Linked DNA regions of Homo sapiens: region 2 is linked to region 1. The links come from fine-mapping of genetic effects on gene expression. Tissue or cell type: whole blood. Region 1 holds a variant in brackets; the other region holds the start of a gene. All regions are shown on one strand. Distances are between the middles of the regions.

Region 1 (8,106 bases):
AAATTTCCAAAAGACATTTTAAAACCAAGTATTTATTAAAAATCTAAATTATATATTGTAAATTATACCTAATAGCACTTTCTTTCTTTCTTTCTTTTTTTTTTTTTTTTGAGATGGAGTCTCGCTCTGTCACCCAGGCTGGAATGCAATGGTGAGATCTCGGCTCACTGCAACTCCTGCTCCCCATGTTCAAGCGATTCTCCTGCCTCAGCCTCCTGAGTAGCTGGGATTACAGGCATGAAGCCACCACACCTGGCTAATTTTTGTATTTTTAGTAAAGGCAAGATTTCACCACGTTGGCCAGACTGGTCTCAAACTTCTGACCACAGATGATCTGCCCACCTCAGCCTCCCAAAGTGCTGGGATTACAGGTGTGAGGCACTGCCCTCGGCCAATAATACACTCTTAACTCTAGACAAGACTTTTTGAAAATTCATGGATTAGTCTCTTACACTCCTGACATCCTCCATCTCTGACTTTAGTTTTCAGTTTTTGGTTGAGACAGGTCTTGCTCTGTCACCCAACCTGTAGTGCAGTGGTGTGATCGTAGCTCATTACAGCCTCAAACTCTTTGGCTCAAGCAATCCTCCCATCTCAGCCTCCAGAGTAGCTGAGACTACAGGCATGCGCCACTATACCCAGCTTTTTCTTTCTTGGCGGGGAGCAGGGGTAGATACAGGGTCTTGCTTTGTTGCCCAGACTGGTTCTCAACTCCTGGCCTCAAGCAATTCTCCCACCTCAGCCTTCCAAAGTGCTGGGATTATAGGTGTAAGCTGCCACACCTGTCCGCTTGAGTCTGAGAGGCAGAGGTTGCAGTGAGCAGAGATCACACCAATGCACTCCTGCCTGGGCAACAGAGTGAGACTCTGCTCAAAAAAAAAGTAAGATAACTTAAGATTATTGTTATTATTTTAGAGCAGGGTCTCACTATGTTGCCCAGGCTGGAGTTCAGTGGCTATTTACAGGCATAATCACAATACGCGACAGCCTCAAACTCCTGGGCATAAGTGATCCTCCCGCTTCAGCCTCTGGAGTAGCTGGGACTACAGGTGCACGCCACCACGCCCAACTATTCTACTGTTTTGCTCAATACATGGCTCCTAGTTAATACAACTAGTTTGGCACATTTATATTGTCTTGAACTGAAATTTGAGTATTTTCTTTTCAGTATCTAAATATGGAGATGTTGCCTACAACTTTTAATTTAAATTCCCAGATATGGTACAATTTTCTTTCCTGTCCTTTTTAGCGGTATTCCTCAAAAAAAAAAAAAAAAAAAGAAGAAGTAGAGAACTATTAAGTTATATTGATAAATCTGACACCATAGAAGCACAAAATCTTGGAGCTGAAAGAATTGCCAAAAAGAAGCAGGGAGTGGTGGCTCACACCTGTAATCCCAGCCCTTTGGGAGGCCAAGGCGAGCAGATCACTTGAGGCCAAGAGTTCGAGATCAGCCTGGCCAACATGGTAAAACCCCATCTCTGCTAAAAATACAAAAATTAGCTGGGCATGGTGGCAAGCTTATAAGTTTATAATCTCAGCTGCTCCGGAGGCTGAGGCAGGAGAATTGCCTGAACCCGGGAGGGGAGGTTGCAGAGAGCCGAGAGCATGCCACTGCACTCCAGCCTAGGTGACAGAGCCAGACTCTGTCTCAAAAAAAAAGAATTGATAAAAATAATTTATTCCATCACTCCCTACCCCCATTTGTTGTTGTCATTGTTGTTTATTTTTGAGACTGAGTCTTACTCTGTTGCCCAGACTAGAGTGCAGTGGTGCAATCTTGGCTCACTGCAACCTCTGCCTCCCAGGTTCAAGTGATTCTCCTGTCTCAGCCTCCCGAGTAGCTGGGATTACAGGTGCCTGCCATCACGCCCAGCTAATTTTTGTATTTTTAATAGGTGAGCCACCTCACCTGACCTAGACTTTTTTATTTACAAAACTGGGGGTATGGCTGTAATCCCAGCACTTTAGGAGGCCTAGCCAGACAGATTATGTGAGTCTAGGAGTTCGAGGCCAACCTGGGCAACATGGCAAAGCCCTGTCTCAAAAAAAAAAAAAAAAAAAGCTGGGCTCGGTGGCTCATGTCTGTAATCTCAGCACTTTGGGAGGCCGAGGAGGGTGGATCACTTGAGGTCAGGGGTTTGAGACCAGCCTGGCCAACATGGTGAAACCCTCGTCTCTAGTGAAAATACAAAAATTACCCAGGTGTGGTGGCATGTTCCTGTAATCCCAGCTACCGGGAAGGCTGAGGCAGGAGAATCGCTTGCACCTGGGAGATGGAGGTTGCAGTGAGTCAAGATCACACCACTGCACTCCAGCCTGGGCGACAGAGTGAGACTGTCTCAATTAAAAAAAAAACTTATAAGATGATCTGGCTCCTACTGTTGGTCTGCACTTTATGCTGCACTTATTTCTCATAAGTAAAGATTTTTATGTCAATAATTTATGACTTATTAAATAGATTTATCTGTGTTCTAATTCATAAAAAACAAAGGTATTTGAATCCACTTACGTCAAGAACACAAAAAATAAAGTAGAAATGAAGATGGGACATTATGGTCATTAAGAAAACCAGGCACCCAGCTTTGGGTACAGAAGTCTGCAGTCCTTGGACATCTTGACCTGATTTATCTTCTTTCTGTTTCTATGTTTCTTTGTTTTTCTTTCAGTAATATTGTACAATCTCCTCTTTGCAGTATGGAGAATTGTTGGAAAACGTTCTCAGAATTTATTTTCTCTTGGTATATTGCTAAATATTGGGGAAGGAACAGCCTTGTTGTATGTGGTATCGGTGTTCTTTTTTATGTCTTTTTTATTTTATTTTATTTTTTAAGAAATATTTTTTTAAAAATAAAAATAAAATTAGAGACGGAGTCTTGCTATGTTGCCCAAGCTGGTCTCGAACTCCTGGGCTCAAGTAATCCACCCACCTCAGCCTCCTAAAGTGCTAGGATTACAGACATGAGCCACTGTACCCAGCTGGTATCAGGTATTTTTGAGTGTCCATCTGAGAGCATTACCAAGGCTTATGGGAAGATGCTACGTGTTGCATTCCAAGCAACATGTATTTGCTTGGAATGTTTGTTCCAAAACATTCCAAGCATCAAGATCTCACAAGAAGGTAAGGCAGCAAACACCTCTTAATTTGGACAAAATGTCTTCCTCTTCCCAGCTCTCTCAGTCAAAAATATCCTCCACCCACTACTGCCTATAAACTACTGATTATGGCACTTGATTGTGATGGAGAAGGGGCACTGGACTGGGATGGAATGGTTTAGTATGTGCAGGCTGAGGCCATTAAAATCCTTTGCAAAAGTTGATTCCTCAGAACTGTGTCTGACCCCGAGATGCCATTGTGCCTCATGAGCTCCTAAAGTCTCCTAAGACCTTGCAAGCTATATGTAGCAGTCAGGTTAGGTTCTTTGGCTCTGTAGTCAGAATTACTAGCTTCAAATTCTGTTTCTTATTAGTTGTCTCACTTTGCCCTTAACTTCATGTCTTGGTTTCTACATTGAAAATTGAGGATGATTGAGCTCACTTCGTAAGGTGGTTGAATTTAATTAACTAACTAAATTAGTTAATTTTCATAACCTCTAAGAAAGTTCATGGTTCATAGTAAGTGCTCAATAAATGTTGGTAATAATTACTGGTCTTTTCTCCCTGGTAGGTATGGCTACTAACAAATACATAGCTTTCTGGTGGTTTTGATCTGATCCACAGTGTTAAGAGCACCAACATGACAGGTAGATTCTACACTTACTCCTCCCACAGGGCCTCCTCCTTCTGACTATAATACTCTCCTGTTCGTCTCCAATCCCAGTTGTGTAACCGCCCAAGGAGTTCACCTTGCCCACTGTCTAGACAGAGCCGATTCATCAAGACAGGGGAATTGCAATACAGAAAGAGTAATTCAAGCAGAGCCTGCTGTGCGGGAGAACAGAGTTTTATTATTACTCAAATCTGTCTCCCCGAGCAGTTCTTAAGGATAATTAGCTGGGCGTGGTGGTGGGTGCCTGTAATCCCAGCTACTC[G/C]GGAGGCTGAGGCAAGGAATTGCTTGAACCCAGGAGGCGGAGGTTGCAATGAGCCAAGATCGTACCATTGCACTCTAGCCTGGGCGACAAGAGCAAAACTCTGTCTCGAAAAAAAAAAAAAGGAAACTTATGACTCCCAAATAGAAGGCATATTTGAGACCAGCTACATTCTCTAGAAGTGTTCTGTTGTGTTATTTTTGCATAGCCTGATTAAACATTTAATGCAGTTATCCAATTCTTTCTTACCTGTGGATTTTTTTTTCTCTGATGGCTATAATCATATAATTTTACTAAGGGCCATTGATCATTATAATTTAGCTTGTCTGTTTATTACAAAATGCCATTTAACTATTACTAAGTCATCACATTCTGGTAGCTGGCATAAAAATAACTCTGGGGCAGCCAGCAAACAATCAGGAATTGCTGAGGCCTGTATAGTTCAATTACTTTGAGTAAAGTCTACACATTTTGATAATTGTTATGGTGAAATAATCTTGTGTGCATTTTTTATTTTACTTAGAATAAGAGTTTGTATTTTTTCTAAGTAAATAATGAACTGTGTCTGCTTGAATAGATTCTCTTTTTTTCTAACGGCCTAGTGTTGTTAGCCAAAATGCAATAAAGCTGAGCTTCAGGATCTTAGTGCTTTTCAGGCCTGAACTGCTAGCATTTTATTTTGCTTCTGAGAAGAGAAGAGCATTCTCATCAAAGAGCATGTTTATTAATACACTGGCATATTTCGTTCCTGAGTGAGACAAGAGAATTAAGGATAGAAGAAATTTCAGTTCTTTCAAATCCACCCACAAGAAACAATTGAATGGAGCCCTCCTAACATGAGGCTATTTTAAGAAGGGGAAGTATGCTTATTTATTGGGTACCAATAGACAAAGGAGTAAGCAATGACCCAACAGCCTCATTCTCCCTAATTGCCCATCCTTCTCCTAGCAGTGTTCTCCCTCAGGATGGAGGTGCCTGGAAGTGCTGCTAGTGGCCACTCCTGAACCACAGACTATCCTGGGTTAACATCTTCAGTTGTATATTCAGAAGGAAAAAGCCAAGGACCCATCTGTGGTCTCAGGGTATCATCTGAACAAGCAATATACACCCAGCGAAGAACACTCTGTCCCCTTAGAGAGTTTCCAGTCCTTTCCCACATAAACAGACTAACACCTGCACTCCTTGCCTCATCTTCAGGGCACGTCTGTCACAAACAGAACTTTCAGAAATCCTTTATGAAGGTATAGACTTCAAACTCCTGTGAGTTTGGTTATTATGAGTCTACTCTTTGAGCCTAATCCTCTTTGGGCACACTGACAGAGCTCAGACCCTGGGCTAGGAAGTCCCTGTTTGGCCAGCTTGTCAGCCTCTTTTGCTGTCATCCCTAGTTCACTTAAATGGAACTGCAAGAGTTACAACATTCTGTATATTTCAATTAACATTACTGTACTAGGGAAAGTAGTGATGCTTTCTTTCCAGTTGGAGATTTATTGTCTCTAAATTGGGGGTCTTCTCAATCCAAGTTTGCCCTGTGAACATGTTGTGAAATTGTCATCTGAAGCAGGCCCCTCAAAGATGGTTGAGAAGCCTTGCATTTTCCTGAAGAGCAGAGGACACTGTTTATCTTGGCAGAATTCCAAGCCCAATCAGTAGATATGAAAAGCAAGAAGAAAGGAGCATGTGTTCAAAGTTTTTCTTATCAAGTCTTTAGAGTGCAGGCCCTGGGAAAAATGCTGCAGGTACATTAGGATGGAAAGACTATGTTGGGAGAAGGCCCTTGGCTAATGAGAACATAGGTCTGGTAGAATATTGAGGAGCCCTTTAAGGAGAAAACAATTAGCTTTTTCAAAGCTTTCCTTTTAGAGACCAACTCACTATTATTAGTAAATTAAGACATACTAAGAAATAGATTATTCAAGAAAAAGGACTTCAGCCACAGAAGTAAAATGGGCAGAGTTAGAGCAAGAGGGAGCAAATATTCAATAGGAAGCAAAGAGTAAACAATACATGCATTCGTTGCTAGTAATAAGGTAAAAAATGCAAGAGAAAGCACATTAAGGGTTCTATTTGACCTTTCTCAAATAAAGAAAACTGTATTTAAAATAGTAGCCCCCATTTCTGATGAGATTGTGATAAAATTGAGGTGAGGATAGGAATGAAAATAGGAATACCATTTGGGAAAACAAAATAGCCATAATTAGCAAAAGGCTTTTATTGAGTGTATAGTTCAATGACTTTTAATATATTTGCAGAGTTGTACAACCATTACCACAATCTAGAAACAGTCTTGAAAATATTAATATCCTTGAAATTACTCCTGGATCAAGAATTAATAATAACAGCAGTTGTTATTCTGTATAGAGTACTAACTCAGAACCAAGCACTTTACATGTAATTTATTCATTTCAATTCTCACAACAATCCTATGAGGAAGGTGTTATTAGTGACCCTTCTTGATAAATGAAATACTGAGATATAGAGAAGTTAAGAAATTTGCCCAAACTACCATGGATAGTGTTAAAAACCAGATCATCTCTTTCCAGAACCTATACACATAAGCAACTACTACACTATAAGGAAATAATACAACAAAAGTAAAAAGCTCCATGCAGGAAGAGTTAATTACAGAATTCTGTAAGATCCAATAATGGGCATAAGTTAAATGGTCTACAATCCACAAAGAATAGGTTTAGTAGATTTTGGTGTGTCTGCTACTCAGCCATAAAAAGGAAAATAGTAGACCCTGTACAAATAAGGAAAATATTTATGATATTCAATAGCACAGTATAGTAGTTGTTGGATGAATGAATAAGCCAGCATAGCCCCTGCCTTCTTCAATATCAGTCCTTCACAAATGATCTTCAATTGCTATATACCCAGGGCCAAACCCAGTGTCTTCAATGCACGGGGCTCTCCAAGTGGCTGTGGGGTGGTAAGATCTCTTCACTGGGTGAGCCACAGGAAATGACTCCAATAGTCAGGTTCCTTCTGAGCTAAGACCTGGCTGGGCATTGGAGATGTTCTCCAAGGACAAAGGTATTTGTTTTTGTTTTTGTTTTTGTTTTTTGAGATGGAGTCTGTGTCGCACAGGCTAGAATGCAATGGCGCAATCTTGGCTCACTGCAACCTCAACCTCCTGAGTTCAAGCAATTCTCCTGCCTCAGAGTAGCTGAGATTACAGGCACGCGCCACCACGCCTGGCTAATTTTTGTATTTTTAGTAGAGACAGAGTTTCACCATGTTGGCCAGGCTGGTCTCAAACTCCTGACCTCAAATGATCCGCCTGCCTTGGCCTCCCAAAGTGCTGGGATTACAGGCATGAGCCACCGTGCCCAGCCCCCAAGGACAAAGTTTTGATGGTGTCCTCTGTGTCTGCAAAATATTGAAAAGACACCTGCATGTGAACAAAATCTGGAAGACAGTATGCAAAAAATTAAAACAGTTGCAATGTTTGCTGGAAGAATTGTAGGAGGTTACTTACTTTTAAAATTTTTTCTGCAATGTTGTTACACTATCTTTTTCAGCAATGTTTTGAAGAAAAGGGATCTCCTTGATCTTCATCTTGATGTTCCTAAGACAAAAGCCAAATCAATGAATGACTCATTGCTGGCCACATCTGACCCAAATGTTAGACACTGACAAGACTCCATCCTCCAAAGAATATCTTGGTTAGAAGTATTTAATTGTTCTAGGTTCTGGAGATATGGCAAAGCATAAGATTGAATCCCTGCTCTCTCAAAGCTTACATACTAGAACTGTGTTGTCCAGTACAGTAGCCACTGGCCACATGTGGCTATCTAAATTTAAATCAGTTAAAATTAAATTAAATTAAATTAAAAATTCTTTTACTCATTCACACTAGCCACATGTCAAGTGCATAGGAGTCATATGGTAACTAGTGGCTACTATATTGGACAGCTCAAATATAACAATACTTCCATCATTGCAGAAAATTCTACTGGTTAGTCCTCCTTTAGACAGAAGAGTTTGATAATAATCAAGTAAACAAAAATGGACAAGAGTAAACATTGCTCTGAAGAAAATAAAAAACAGTGCTGCCTTGTATTGTAGACTGATG
Region 2 (8,106 bases), 27 kb after region 1:
CTGACATTTAAGATACTGACGTTTTTTTGCCGTGGATACAATTTTAACTTTTTAAACTTTCCTAGATATTGGTTGAAACAGAGTCTGTGAGATAGCTTTACTCCATTTTCTTAATCTAGAAGTCTAATAATTTTTAATGTGTGTATATTTTCCATTTTTATTATAAAAATTGTATATCCTTGCTGTAAAATTTCAAACCAAACACAAGTATATAAAGTAAAAAGTGAAAGTTCCTTGTAATACTGCCCTCAAGAATATTACTTTTAACGGTCTCCAGATCTTTTTAAATATTTATTTTCTTTCTTTTTTCTTTCTTTCTTTTTTTTTTTTTTAAGATGGGGTCTCGCTCTGTCGCCCAGGCTGGAGTGCAGTGGCTCGATCTTGGCTCACTGCAAGCTCCGCCTCCCGGGCTCACACCATTCTCCTGCCTCAGCCTCCCGAGTAGCTGGGACTACAGGTGCCTGCCACCACGCCCGGCTAATTTTTTGTATTTTTTAGTAGAGACGGGGTTTCACCGTGTTAGCCAGGATGGTCTCGATCTCCTGACCTCGTGATCCACCCGCCTCAGCCTCCCAAAGTGCTGGGATTACAGGCGTGAGCCACCGCACCCAGCCTCTTTTTTCTTGGCAATGCTTTGACCTTTCAGTGATAATGTACAAATATATAAATACACAGATGTCTTCTTTAAAAAAAGAACAGCTTTATTGAAATATATTCCACATGCCATAAAAGTCACCCATTTTATGTGTACAAACCAATGATTTTTAGTAAATTTATAGAGTTGTACAACCATCATATATGTATGTACATAAATACATAGTTATTTTCTTATGCCCTGTTTAACTTACTCTCCCAGTTCTAAAATGTACTTACCTACTTACCTATGCCCACAGCATGCCCACATGGCTAGAGGCTGCTTTTCAGAACTCTTGGGTAGTTCTGTTCCTGTCAATTGAGCTACTTGCTTACTAAATGCCTTTGGGCTTATTTTATTTATTTATTAATATATCGGTGATATTTGCTATCATAATTTAGTTAAATTTTTGAAAACATGAAATATGAGCATAAAGAGAAAAGAGATGTTTCTGTGAAAACTAAGTTGAATGCATTGGAAAAGCTTGTTAAAGGCAAGTTGTTAAAAAAAATTGTTAAAGTAACTCTGGGTCGGAAATCTGAGAGTGGAAAGTCTTCCATCTAGAATAATTTCACATCCAAACACTGTGGCTCACACCTGTAATCCCAGCACTTTGAGAGGCTGAGGCGGGAGGATCCCTTGAGCCCAGGAGTTCCAGGCTGCAGTAAGCTATGATTGTGTCACTGCAGTCCAACTTGGGGAATAGAGCAAGACCCTGTCGCAAAAAAAAAAAAAAAAAAAAAAAGTCATCATAGCACTATTCATAATAGCAAAGACATGGAATTAACCTAAGTATCCATCAACAGTAGACTGGATAAAGAAAATGTGGTAGGTATACACCATAGCATACTACACAGCCAAAAAAGGAATGAGATAATGTCCTTTGCAGCAACATAGATGGAACTGCTTAGGTCATTATCCTAAGCAAACTAATGCAGGAAAACAAAACCAAATACCACATGTTCTCACTTATAAGTGGGAGCTAAACATTAAGTACAGATGGACACAAAGAAGGGAACAACAGACACTGGGGCCTACATGAGGGTGGAAATGAAAAGTTACCTATTGGGTACTATGTTCATTATGGCAGTGACAAAATAAAACGTACACCCAACCTCCTTGACATACAACTTACCTATATAGCAAACTTGCATATGTGACCCTGAATCAAAAATAAAAAACAAAAAGAATGTTGGTCTGGCACAATGGCTCACAGCTGTGATCCTAGAACTTTGGGAGGCTGAGGGGGGCGGATTGCCTGAGCTCAGGAGTTCGAGACCAGCCTGGGCAACATGGCGAAACCCTGTCTCTACAAAAAACACAAAAAATTAGCGGGGCATGTTGGTGGTGTGTCTGTAATCCCAGCTACTCGGGAGGCAGAGGCACGAGAATCGCTTGAACCCGGGAGGTGGAGGTTACAGTGAGCCAAGATCACGCCACTGCACTCCAGTCTGGGGGACAGAACAAGACCCTGTCTCAAAAAAAAAAAAAAATTGCATTCAGATTGCTTCACAAGTGTCTTTCAGTTATTGCTCCAGTTTAAAGAAACCTTTAAAGAAATTATAAATAGTTCATTAAAGGCAGGAAACTTCATTGAGCGGGCTATATTCACAGAAAAATCCTGAAACTACTTCAATTTGTAAGTCTTAAGTTAAAATAAAATGCTTATACAATAAGCTTATTTTTCTTAAAACAAAACTGTATACTGTACTGTATAATGCTTTATGATTCTGCATTTTTTTTTCTTTGAGACAGAGTTTCACTCTTGTTGCCCAGGCTGGAGTGCAGTAGCTCAATCTTGGCTCACTGCACCCTCTGCCTCCTGGGTTCAAGTGATTCTCCTGTCTCAGCCTCCTGAGTAGCTGGGATTACAGGCACCCACCACCATGCCCGGCTAATTTTTTGTATTTTTAGTAGAGATGGGGTTTCATCATGTTGGCCAGGCTGGTCTCAAACTCCCAACCTCAGGTGATCCACCTGCCTCAGCCTCCCAAAGTGCGCCCAGTGGATTCTGCATTTTAATCGACTTTTCAACTAACAACTTACCTCTAGTCCCAATGGCATGGAATAGAAGAGATTACAGACCGTGGGTTTGTAATCGACTTTTCTTTTACAACATATTAAGGGCATTTTTCATGTCACTTTATGTAAATTTACCTCATTTTTCTTTTTTGAGAGAGACAGGGTCTCACTGTTGCCCAGGGCAACAGCGAGATCATAGCTCAGTGCAATGGCGAGATCATAGCTCAATGCAGCCTTGAACTCCTGGGCTCAAGTGATCCTCCCACCTTAGCCTCCCCAGTAGCTAGGATTACAGGCACATACCACCACCCCTGGCTAATTAAAAAAAAATTTTTTTTTTGTAGAGATGGGGTCTTGCTATGCTGCCTGGGCTGTACTCTCTTTTTATTTATTTTTTATTCTTATTTTTTGAGACAGAGTTTTGCTCTTGTTGCCCAGGCTGGAGTACAATGGTATGATCTCAGCTTACCGCAACCTCTGCCTCCCGGGTTCAAGAGATTCTCCTGCCTCAGCCTCCTGAGTAGCTGGGATTACAAGTATGCGCCACCACACCCGGCTAATTTTGTAATTTTAGTAGAGACGGGATTTCTCCATGTTGGTCAGGCTGGTCTCGAACTCGCTACCTTAGATGATCTGCCCACCTCAGCCTCCCAAAGTGCTGGGATTACAGGAGTGAGCCACCGCGCCCGGCCCTATACTCATTTTTTATAAAACTGGCCTCATATTATTCCATTGTATAGTGGATACACTCTAATTTCTTTATAAATTATTTAAACTATTTTTTGATGTTTTGTTGAAAAAAAACTTGAGCAGGGAACTGATATTATGAAGGTGGATTGAGGGATGAATGTGGCAATAGAGCATAAAATGAATTAAAGAGGAGAGAATGGAAAAGGAAATGGTTGATGAGAGACCCTTGAAATAATCCAGCTGAGATTAGGCCAGTTAGTGGCCATGGGTTTCCCCCTCACTCTTATGCATCCAACATATGCTTTCGTCCGTCTTGAAGTCCCGACATTTCTAGAAAACACAGTTGTCTTTCTCCTCTCTACCTTAGCTCATCTCAGTCCTTCTGAATTTCATCTTTGCTTGTTGAAATCCTACCTCTCCTTCAATATCCAGAACAAACCCCACACCCTGCCATGATTGGTCCTGGCTGGAAACCGTCCCTCCTTCTTTCTTCCTTCCTCTGTGCATGTTTCTTGCAAAGGCAGTACAGGGCAGTGGTGAAGAGCAACGACTTTGGAACCACCAATTTGCTATCTCTGTGACCTTGGGCACCTTACTCAGTGCCAATTCGCAGTGCCTCAGTGTCCTCACCTGTCAGGGGGAGAAGTGCATACAGCATTGTTATGAAGAGTGAATTAGTTAAAGGTTGTAAGAATAGTGCCTGATAGCATCTGATCAGCACTGAATATATGTTAGCAATTATTTTGATTCACCGCAGAGGGCGGTCTACGAGAGCGCAGAGCCCCACTCGGCCAGCGGGGTCTGGCGGGGGACCTGTCGCGCTGAAAGCTCCAGGGTAGGGCCGACGCCCATCAGGCTGGGCATCCGTTCGGGATGCGCAGGTTGCGATCTGCAACCGGCGGCGCCACGCCCAGGCGGGCGGAGCGCGGTTCCCGGAGTCTCGCGCCCGCGGTCATGTGACACAGCGAAGATGGCGTCGCCCGGCTGCCTGTGGCTCTTGGCTGTGGCTCTCCTGCCATGGACCTGCGCTTCTCGGGCGCTGCAGCATCTGGACCCGCCGGCGCCGCTGCCGTTGGTGATCTGGCATGGGATGGGTGAGTGAGTGAGAAATTTAAAAGGGTTTGGCGATTCTCTCTCTTCCTAGCCTGGGTTCGCATCTGCAAAATGCGGGTGTAGAGGGCGAGGACGTGGTCCCACAGCACGCGGCTGCCTCGACATTTTAGGATTTGAAGGATCTGCATTGGAAAGAGAGAAGGGGAAGGAGCCGTCCCCTTCACTGGAAAGAGAGAAGGGGAAGGAAAGAGAGAGCCGCGCACGGCGTTGAAGTTTTACATGCTGTCCTTGATTAATCCTTACAGTAGTGGCGTCAGGATGCAGCATCTCTCACTTGGTCAGGCTAGGTGAGCTGCGGCTGGCTATATGACTGGCGCATCTACCCTTTTATTTATTCCTTCACACATTGAACAGAGATTTGTTAGGCACCTACAGTTCATTTACAAATTGAGTAACCCTTATCTGAAATGCTTGGGACTGGGAAGCATTTCGGATTTTTTTTTTTTTAATATTTGCATATATACAAGAGATCTGGGGGGTGGGACCCAAGTGTAAACAGGAAATTTATTTATTTTTCATATACACCTTATACACATAGCTGGAAGGTAATTTTATGCAATATTTTAAATAATTTTGTGCAACCCATCACATGAGGTCAGGTGTGGAATTTTCCACTTGTGGCATCATGTCTGCGCTGAAAAACTTTCAGATTTTGGGTTTCCCATTTTCAGATTAGGATGCTCAACCTATATTCATTTAACACAGTTATTGAGCACCTACTAGGTGCTGAGGATACAGTAGGGAACTAAACAGACTAAATTCTTTGTTCTTTTGGAACCTACTCTCCAGTAGGAGAAGCAGATTATAAAGAAATTAACAAGTAAAACATAACATATCAAATGGTGATATGTGCAACAGAGAAAAATATAGTAGGGTGTAGGATAAAAACTGGAGGTGGGGGCTTGCACTTTTAATAAAGCAAAGTTGGGAAAGAATTCATTGAAAAAGTGACATCTGAGTACAAAACTGAGGTAGATGAGGACAGTTGCCATTTGGCTGTCTGGTAGAAGGAACAGTAAATGGGAAAGCCCTGATGTGGAAGTATGTCTGGTGTGTTCAAGGGACAGCATTCAGATCAGCGTGGCTGGAAATGAGTAAGCAAGGGGAAGAAGTTAGGAGTTTAGTTTGGAAGGGAGGGGCAGGTACAGAAGTTATTGGGCCTAGTAAGACTAATGCAGGGACTTTGGCTAGAGTGTCATGGGGAACTTTTTGAGCAGATGAGTGACATGATCTGACACATTTTTAAAGAATCACTTTAGTTGCTGTATTAAGAATAGATCGTAGGGCGTCATGGATGGTCACAGGGAGACAGGTTAGGAAACTATTGCAATAATTTAAACAAGAGATGATGACTTGGAACTGTAGAGTAACAGTAGAGGTGTTGAGAAGTGGTCAAAGTTTGGATAGATTTTGAAGGTGGATTGCTAACAGATCAGACTTGGAATAAGAGAGAAAGAAAGGAGCCAAAGATGACTCCACAGGTTTTGGCCTGAACAATTGGAAGGGTGAAGTTTTCATTTTACCAAGATGGGGAAGCCTGTAGGACAAGCTGACTTAGGGTGGGGGAAAGATCAAGAGTCTGCTTTTGGGCTTACTAAACTTGAGATCCTCATGAGACACCCAGGAGATGTTGTAGAGGCATTTGGAGTGTGGAGTCTAGGACAGAGATACGGGTTGGAGATTTAAGTAGGGAGTCTTCGGCATACAGCTAGTAGTTAAAGGCTAGGTGAGACCACCTAGGAAATGAGCGTACACAGAGGACTAAGCCCTGAGGCACTCCATTCCATTTGGAGGTGGAGGAAATGAGGAGAAACTAGCAAAGGAGGCTGTAACCAAATAGCCGGTGAAGTGGAGGGGTCAGGAAAGCGCAGTGTCCTTGAAGCCAAGTGAAGAAAATGTTTCAGGAAGAAGGGCATGATCAACTGCATCAAATGTTGATAGGTCATGATCAACTGTATCAAATGTTAATGGGTCAAGGAAGATAAAGGCTGACAACTGATTATTGGATTTAGCAATATAAAGATGATTAATCTTGACAAAAGCAGTTTTGGGAGAGTCGTGATAGTGAGATCTTTATTGGGATGGGTTACAGAAAAATATTCAGAGTAATTAGAGTCAGCAAATACAAACACTTGCAAGGTTCTCCAACAGGCCCTGGGGCTACTACAGTGGGGTCAAAAGAGGACACAGGGTAGGAGCTTTGTGTTTTCCCAGAGCTCACAGTCAGTTACAGGGGAGGCAGAGGCAGTTAAGTAACCTACAATTACAGCTCAGTGTGGAGAACGTTGTTTTCAGAGAAATAAAAGGAATAGACAATTCTCTAGGCAGTAGCCTTTTCTTGTTCTAAAATTGGTGCTTAAGCTTTCTCGCAGGTTGAAAATGGAATAAGTAAGTTCAAAATGGGAAATGATCTCAGTCCACTTCTACTCAGTAGCCAGTTTGCTTCCTGTTCCTAGTTCTAGTTCCCTGAAATAGAAGAAACAAGTCTGGGGCTAGGACAAGATGAAGAGGCTCCTGAAGTGCAAATTTAAGGAGGCACTCACTCTCAAATTCAGGGTCAACACTTACATAAACCTGAGAATGAGTGCCTCCTTAAATTTTGTGCCCTAGAGCGGGGGTCCCAAACTCCCTGGGTCTGTGACCTGTTAGGAACTAGCCACACAGCAGGAGGTGAGTGAGCCTGCAGCCTTACCACCATGAGCTCTACCTCCTGTCAGATCAGCAGTGGCATTAGATTCTCAAAGAGCTCAAATGCTGTTGTGAACTGCGCATGTGAGGGATCTGGATTGGGTGCTCCTTATGAGAATCTAGCAAATGCCTGATGATCTGAGGTGGAACAGTTTTGAAAAATTGTCTTCCACAAACCTGGTCCCTGGTGCCAAAAAGGTTGAAGACCGCTGTCCTAGATGCTTAATTTGCCTCACCCTAGTCCTGGCCCTGAAGAGAAAACTTTGCATCTGTTCACCCCAAATATCCCCTGTGATAGGGGAAGGGAATGTGTACCTCTGCTTATTTTTCATTTGTAAATTTGGTGTCTTAATTATCCTATATGGGCTTTTTGGTTTTTTTGAGACAGGGTCTCGTTATGTTGCCCAAACTGGTCTCGAACTCTTGGCCTCAAGCAATCCTCCTGCCTCGTCTTACCAAAGCGCTGGGATGATAGGTATGAGCCCATGCTTGGCCTATATGGATTTTTTTTTTTTTTTTTTTTTGAGATGGAGCCTTGTTCTGTTGCCCAGGCTGGAGTGCAGTGGCATGATCTTGGCTCACTGAAACCTCCACCTTTCAGTTTCAAGCGATTCTCCTGCCTCAGCCCCCCAAGTAGCGGGACTACAGACATGTGCCACCACACCCGGCTAATTTTTGTATATTTAGTAGAGATGGGGTTTCACCATGTTGCCCAGGCTGGTCTCGAGCTCCTGACCTTGTGATCCACCCACCTCGGCCTCCCAAACTGCTGGGATTACAGACGTGAGCCATGACACCCAGCTCCTGTATGGACTTTTGAAGCTTGTTATTACTTGATAAACAGGAGCTAAGCAAAAAATGTTCTTTCTTCTGTTTTTTAAAATTGAGGTAAAAATTCATGTAAAGTTAACCATTTAAAATGGTACGATTCAGTGGCATTTAGTGTATTTGCAATGTTG

What was found. PIP is the estimated chance that this variant, and not a neighbour inherited with it, causes the effect.
Region 2: it holds the start of PPT1, and the variant in region 1 is fine-mapped to the expression of PPT1 in whole blood (TOPMed, PIP above 0.99).

Annotation. Positions count from the first base shown.
Region 1 is chr1:40,120,599-40,128,704 of GRCh38, reverse strand. No RefSeq gene overlaps it. Among named protein-coding and RNA genes, the nearest start is that of PPT1, 27 kb to the right of the region's middle. The variant G/C (reference allele first, on the strand shown) is at 4,032.
Region 2 is chr1:40,093,449-40,101,554 of GRCh38, reverse strand. It overlaps PPT1 (palmitoyl-protein thioesterase 1), which reads left to right and starts at 4,303. Exons shown (of 9, transcript NM_000310.4): 1 at 4,303-4,440. The coding sequence starts at 4,317. RefSeq lists an enhancer at 4,439-4,568.